Linked DNA regions of Homo sapiens. The protein of the gene in region 2 purifies or fractionates together with the protein of the main gene of each other region. This does not show direct contact. Each region holds a gene or a part of one and is shown on either strand. Other genes may lie near its edges. The genes, in order: DCC and PDC.

Region 1 (3,837 bases), on a different chromosome or scaffold from region 2:
CCAGTAGGCCCCGGTGTATGATGATGTTCCCCTTCCTGTGTCCATATGTTCTCATTGTTCACCTCCCACTTATGAGTGAGAACATGTGGTGTTTGGTTTTCTGTTCCTGTGTTAGTTTGCTGAGAATGATGGTTTCCAACTTCATCCATGTCCCTGCAAAGGCTGGTTCAACATACGCAAATCAATAAATGTAATCCATCACATAAACAGAACCAATGACAAAAACCACATGAAGAACAGAACTGTTTGTGTCCCTTTTCGGTGAGTACTTTGTTCTACCTTGTATCCTACCTACCTCTGTGTGTGCCTGTCACCTTCACTGGAGGAAAAGCCCCTGCAGGGCAGAAACTCATCTAAATCTTTTATTCATCTATTTGTAATCGTTGGTAAAGGCTCAGTAACTATTGTACTATCTTCAATGAAATACTTGGTCTTATTTGGTCCTTATAATATCTCAATGATTTTATTAGGCATTGATAGTCCTTCCTGAAAACTGATAACACAAGTTTTGAGAGACCATATGTTTGTCTATGGCTGTACAATAAGCTAAAGATGATGCTGAATTTGTATTTTATAATATGACTCTGGAGAGCTTACTTAGAAGAGCACATCAGAGTTAGGCCCCTTGATTACAAGAAAGATATAAACAAACTAGAGGGAGTTAAAGTAAGAAGACTAAACATGATTAAGCTTCTGGAGTGGTATGAGGAAAAATCAAATGAATTAAATATTTATAATCTGGTTAAGTAAAGACCAAATGGGGAGGCGAGAGTGATTTATAGCTCGAATTATTGAACACATTTCAGCCCAGAAGAGGCAGTGTCACTGAAAAGGGTATGCAGGAATCAAGAGCCAGATGACAAGGGTAATGGAAAGAACATTTAGAACAGGACTATCTCAGATGAATTGTAAAATAAACTTTTAACAGTAAAACTGATATGCTGCTGAAAACTTCCCCAAGGGAAACAGTCACCAAACCATCCCTGGAGATGCCTCAAACCAGAGAGAGAAAATAACCAGAAATTGTCCTGCAGGGAACAGCTCTGCCCAGACATTAAACATGAAAGGAAAAGCTTTGCAGATTCTTCTCTCTAATTTGTATTCTTCTGGGATCCCATGAGACTGAAAAAAGATGCAGGAACAATGGATTGAGGACTCTGGGTGCAGAGGGTTTGCTTAGATGTCTCAGCCTTGGCTCACATCTCTAATGAGTCTGCACAGAAGGCAACACACTACAGAGGCCTCTGCAAGTACATCTGAGGCTTTATTTCATTCAGGGGTCTTCATTAGCCTGTCCCATGGGAGCAGGTGAAAAAATTATAAACCCAAACAAAAATTGGGGGGGATGGTGCACAAAGCACATACGTTTGTTTGAAACCCACAGTTATATATGCCATAAATGTAACAATGATATTGGGCCTATGTATTTTACCATGTTGGAAATATACCCAAATTCAAATGATCATATTAAGATTTTTAACTCAGATTTGGTGTCTACCATTACTACTCTGTGTTTCTGTTATCCTTTAGTTCCATTATATTCAGGGGATTCATAAGGAGCCTCAAATTAAGCCTGGCATCCCAGCATCCTGCTTCCCTGTAAATGATTCTCTATAAAGACACAATAAACAGGATAAGGCAGGATACTAACATGGCAGGACTTGCTCAGGGTAATCAACAATGTTACAGTGACTAAGAATGTCTTTTCCAACTCAAAATCAGTGTACATTTTGGGAAGGTGCTTAAATAAAGCCTAGGCCAGAGTCAACATGGTAAAGTATTAGGCGACAACTTCCTGAACATTAGACTACTGATAACATCTATGCCTAAAAGCAAAGGGTTGCTTAGTAGAAGAAACAGAATAACTACCAATAATATTAAGGTCTAAAAGCAAATGTTGCTCAGTTGAAGAAACAGAATCATAGAATTGTCTTGCTGACATCACAAATAGCTAACAAATTAATGGAAAAAATGTTCAGACTTATAAGCAATCAGGAAAATGCGAATTAAACCCACAATGAGAAGTTACCAGATGCGGGCAAATTAAGCATATGAAAATACCAAGTGTTGGCAGAGGCATGAAGCAAAGAGGCCTTTCATCTGCCCCTGGTGGGGGTTTCAGTAACTGCAACATGTCTTTGCCTCCCGGATGAAAAGATACCCTTCTATGACTCAGCAATTCCACTCCTAGGTATGCACCCTAAACATGGTGGCAAATTTGTGCTGGTGGACATGCACCAGAATGTTTATGCCAACTTTACTAGCAATAGCAAAAAACTGAATTTCAAAATCCATCAACAATAGATTAGATAAACTATGGTTAATTAATATCATGAAGTATTATACACCAGAGAAAGTGACTGAAATACAGCAATATGAATCCACATAGATGAAACTCAGATACTTAACGTTCAGCAAAATTGCAAGTCAGAGAATATACACATTATATTTATTTTATTACTGTTAAGAACAGCCAAGTAAAGTAACATGTTAAAGATGTATACATATGTGGAAAAACTGTACAAAAGGCAAGGGGTTAATACAAAAATCAGAAAACTGCTAGTGGGTACATGGGTATTTGTTATTATTACATTATTATTATTGTTATCATGATCATGAATTGTATTATTAATTATACCAAACACTATATGTATAGTACAGTTCATAATTTAAATAAATTATATAGTGTTGAAACTAATAACTAGAGTTGATCTAGTCCACATTCTCATTTAATAAGGAAAAATACGTTGTACAAAGTACAAGTGACATCCAAATTAATATCAGATGCTACAGAATCATTAGTTAAAACTAATTAGATATTCCTCTAATAAGGGATTCAGGTGCTGTTTTCTAATCTCCTCTCCTACTTTAAACACAACCCCAACAAAACTTAGTCCCCTATGTCTTAACATCAAAACTAAAAGAGAGAACTGCTTTGAGGAAGTTTTATACAGGGAGAAGTTTCAGCTGAACACAAGATGTAGACAAAATATATTTTATAGCCAGAGATAAAACTCAACAATAGTAACAGTCCATGGTCAATTGATGGGAAAAATAAACAGTTCTGTATGATGCAATGCCTTCAAAAATTATCCCTATAAAATCACATAATACTATAATGAAGTCATAGTGATGTATTGTATCTATTAAGAACAGGTTAAATTATGTTCTACATACTTTTAAAGAGGCAGCTAAGTGAGTGGAGAAATATTTCTAAAAGACTATAGAAAAATAAGTAAAATCTAAAAATGTGATTTGAGTTAAAAACATTTATATTAACTGCTTAACTTCTTTTTTCTCTTGTCAAAATGTAAACACAGATTTAAGAACATTGTAGATGGCCCAGAATAATGTTGTATTGACAAGTCCTCTTATCAGAACACAATTCACTAACCAGTTGGTATTTTCATCAGATAACATCCTAAAGATTCAGTTAATTCAGTGGAACATGTTTGTCCTAGATACTCTTAGGAGTAGCCTTCAGGCAAGAACCAATATTTAAAGGATGAACCAGGAAGAAATCTCCAAATTGCAATAAATACTCCTGTTAAGTTTCATCATCATAACCACAAATGGTTTTAAAGGGTCTTCCTCCCTGGAGGGCCATGGTGAAATGACTGAGCAAGCTAAAAGTCAAAAAATTTGGATTAGTGAAATTAAGCTAAAGTATATCACGAAGTAGAAGTAGATCATAGACACTGGGCTCGTGGAATTTACTAGAAAAGAGAAACATTCCTACAGAAGTCATGCCATAAGAATAGCCTTAAAAATATGATCAATAAATATGGAATGATTTGTGTGTTTCCTACTTGAACTTTTCCCCCCAAGAAATGAAAG
Region 2 (3,837 bases):
ACTGACTATCCTTCACTAAAGCTTAGCTATATCTACACCTTTAATGTCCATATTCTATATCATATTCTATATGTGGATGTATTCCTTCTTTCTCCTCTATATTGCCTAATAATTTTTGTTTTATATATGATATATATTTAATATAAATTTGTTATGAATGTGTTTATATTATATGCAGGCAATCAAAGCTTTTTGTTTTCACATACAGTGTTCATATCAATATTTTAGATATGTTTTATGCATATGCAAAATATACATGTGTGTATGTTTGTTTAAAAAAGAGAATCCATTTTGTTCGTGTTTTCTACAGATGGTGGTGTATTATCTGCATTTTTCCTTACCTTGTTTTTTCTGTTTCATACTATATCTTGGAGATTTTTTCAGTATACACACATGAAAAGGTTCTTCCTTATTTAGAAAATTGAGGCATGGTGTTCCATTGTGTAGATATACATAATTGACTTAAACTGTTTAATCGTGATCTACATTGTTGTTTCCAGTTTTTTCTATGACATATGATGCTGAGTGAAGAATCTTGTGCATACATTTTTAACACTCTGTGCAGGTATAGTTATGGTTATATAAGTAAAATTCCCTGGTCAAAGGGCATATACATTACTAATTTTGATATTGCTAGGTTGCCTGTACAGAGATTGTACCAATTTACACTGCTATCAGCAATGTATGAGGGTGCCAAAAATGTGTTATTAAACTTACTTGCTTTCACTATAGTTTTCTGTGTTACTTTTTTCTGTTTCTTTTTTTCCCCATGAATAGTCTGTCCTATCTTTTGCTCATTGTTCTATTTGGTAATTAGTTTCTTTTCTTATCGATTTGTAGAAGCTCTTAATATATATTAGGAAACTGACACTGTCAACTGAGTTGCAAATGTTTTTCCCCAATTTGTTAAATGCTTTTTGACTTTTGTTCCTGGTGACCTTTACCAGACAGCAGATATTTCCTTCCTTTTTTTCCCTGTCTCCTACTTTCCCTCCATCCCTTCATCCATCCATCCTTCCTTCCTTTTTATAAATGAATTTACCAACCTTTTCTTCAATGGTCTTTTTGTTGTTGTTTTTGTTTTTGTCATAATTAGGAAGGTATTCCTCACATTGCTATTATAAAATAAATCTCCACACATTTTGGCTGGTACTCTTGTGAATTCTTTCAAACTTCTGGCTAAATTTAATGGCTCAATCCAAATTAAAAGAGAGAGGAAATTACCATTCAAATAAGATTTAGTAGAGTTAAATGTGAATTTTTAAATTTAAGTTTTAAGCTCTTAGGAGTGGCATATAGATAGCCAAACATAATTTAACAGATTAAGAAAACAGACTCTGGATGAAATGAAGTGTTAAGTTTTCTGGAGGAATACTGAAATTTATTTATTCAAAAAAATAAAGGGAATATCTTATCATTCCCTTTATTAGATGAAAAAAATGAAATTAAAGGCCATTTATTAACCTTTTGGTCTAATCTTGTTTACAATGAAAGTTCATACTGAGGGTGGGGTACAATCAGGAGAGAGGAAAGTGGCTTAATTATAGTGTAGATAAGAGGTCTTGTGATAGCTGGGCAGCAAGAAATTACCAGTAATTGGTGTTTTTGTTTTTTTACTCTTTGACATCTAAATAAAACTGTTAGGAATTATTTGATTTCAAAAATTAATTTGCCCGCTCAAATATTTTTTAGATTAGCATAACAATTTATATAAAGATATTACTTAAAGTACATACTGAATAGTGTCAATAAGAACATTAGATATTGCCATATTTAATTTTAATTTAATAATTATTTTTTCTTCTAGCTTTGCTTGCCTGTATGTGTGGCCTGTCCTTCAAAGTCTTCCTCCAAACTTTGGCTTTTGGCTTCTTCCATTTTAGGGACTGGATTTGATATAATCTATAGGAGGAACAAAGAAATAATAATGACACAAGAATTCCAGGATGTACATACATATATATAGAGATAAATATATAGGTACATGCATATTTATAGTCTCCTGCTGCCAGATTCCATAAGTAGGCTAAGGATAATCACTCAGTGGTAAAGTAAGTGGTAAAGTATTTAGAATGTTTCTGTCCGCAATGTAAAAGGACATTAATTTAACATGTGTTATTAAAGATGTCTGGACTTAAGGATTTTATATAATTCATCATTTGTCTTTTCTTAACTCAAGCCTTCCAGTTAAGTCTATGTGGTTAGTGAACATTATTTATTACTGATTTTCCTAATTTCCTAATATTATGTGAAATTTGAATATATGACGTAATATATGTTACTTATTTCATATAATAAAAATTAAATTAATAATTATATACTTGCTATGAACACTATGTGTCAGGCATTGTTTAAATTATTTTATGTGTCAAAACTCATTTAATTCTCACATAGCTATATGTGGTAGGAACAATTGTTAATGACATGTTGTAACCGAGGAAGCTGAAGGGCAGAGAGTTTAAGTTACTTGCCCAAGATCATACAATAAGTGGTGGAGCAAAGATTTGAACCTACATTTTCTGACTTTGGAGCCAACTCTTAATCATTACACTATTATGGAAATTAACATTCTATAATAGAGTCATTTTTCTCAGTATGATTTGGCAAATCAAATCTTTGAATTGGCATTAAAAAATGATGGTCTAAGGAACACTATTCAATAGCATCTCTCCATACCATGGGACAAGTTTTCATGACAACAGTAGCCACCAAGCAAATGGAAATAGCCAGTAGGTAAGCCTATAGTATTTTTTTTTTTAAGTTTTTTGAGAGAGGGTCTAACTCTGTCTCCCAGGCTTCATTAAGTGCGATGGTGCTGTTTTATTTAGCTCACTGCAGCCTCAAACTTCTGGGCTCAAGTGACCTTACCACGTCAGTCTCCTGAGCGGCGGGGACTACAGGTGTGTGTTTGCGCCACCACGCCCTGCTAATGTTTTTTTTTATTTTTTGGTATGTTGCCCAGGCTAGTGTTGAACTTCTGGCCTCAAGTGATCCTCCCATCTTGGCCTCTCAAAATGCTGGGATTATAGGATTCAGCCACCACACCCTGCCGGTTTATAGTATTTTTGACAGGCTAAAATAGAAAATCACTAAAAGCACTTGGATTTTTATTCATACGAAACTCCTTGGTGCCCGCATGTAGAATCTATTCTTTCATTCTATCTGGTTCACACTCATATCAAATCTATTTCCTTTTTTAGCTTTGGACTATCCAGAAAACTCAATTATTATACATACTAACATATTCCCTCAGGGGTCCATATAGTTGTGATTTTCCTGAAGTTTTCAAGTCAGGGAGGATATACTAATCGTAGATAAACTATCTTATTTTTATACTTTATTCTTTCACTTTTTTTGCTTTGCCTCCTTCTTTCGAAGTCAGTTTTAGGCACTATATCGCACAGTTTATACTTTGAAACTCATCTTAGTTTTCTATTGATTTACACTTCAATCCTGCATTTGGTCTGTGTGGTGCTTTCCCAAGGCGCAGGGTGGTAACACAGAACTCTTTCTTGATTTCTCTTTTGCCTTTACCTTTGGTCTCAACACTTGGACTGGTCCTGTAATTTTGTTTCTCTTTTTGCAATCCCTATCCAGAATCACTGGAGGTCAAATGTCTTTGCCAATTTGAGTTTTTCCACTTGAACAAGAAAAGACTGTCAAGGGAAAGCCAATCAATTTCACAATGTTTAGGTAAGTATAAATGTAATAAAGAATATTACATTTGAATGGATTTAGTAATTAAAAAGCATAATGGAAAATGGAAAGTAAAAACTGCTGTACAGAAAAGCCATCTTATTACTTAGTGTAATTATTTATGAATAAATTTTGCATCTC

Evidence for each region.
Region 1: the proteins of PDC (region 2) and DCC purify together in Homo sapiens (affinity purification with mass spectrometry; one large-scale study listed by BioGRID and IntAct). This does not show direct contact.

Annotation. Positions count from the first base shown.
Region 1 is NC_000018.10:52,346,690-52,350,526, reverse strand, and holds part of DCC (netrin receptor DCC), read right to left. Parts: intron 1-3,837. UniProt on the Homo sapiens protein: Receptor for netrin required for axon guidance. Mediates axon attraction of neuronal growth cones in the developing nervous system upon ligand binding. Its association with UNC5 proteins may trigger signaling for axon repulsion.
Region 2 is NC_000001.11:186,447,582-186,451,418, forward strand, and holds part of PDC (phosducin), read right to left. Parts: intron 3,694-3,837; exon of another isoform or gene 3,598-3,693; intron 1,903-3,597; 5' UTR 1,879-1,902; coding exon 1,818-1,878; intron 1,144-1,817; exon of another isoform or gene 1,047-1,143; intron 1-1,046. UniProt on the Homo sapiens protein: May participate in the regulation of visual phototransduction or in the integration of photoreceptor metabolism. Inhibits the transcriptional activation activity of the cone-rod homeobox CRX.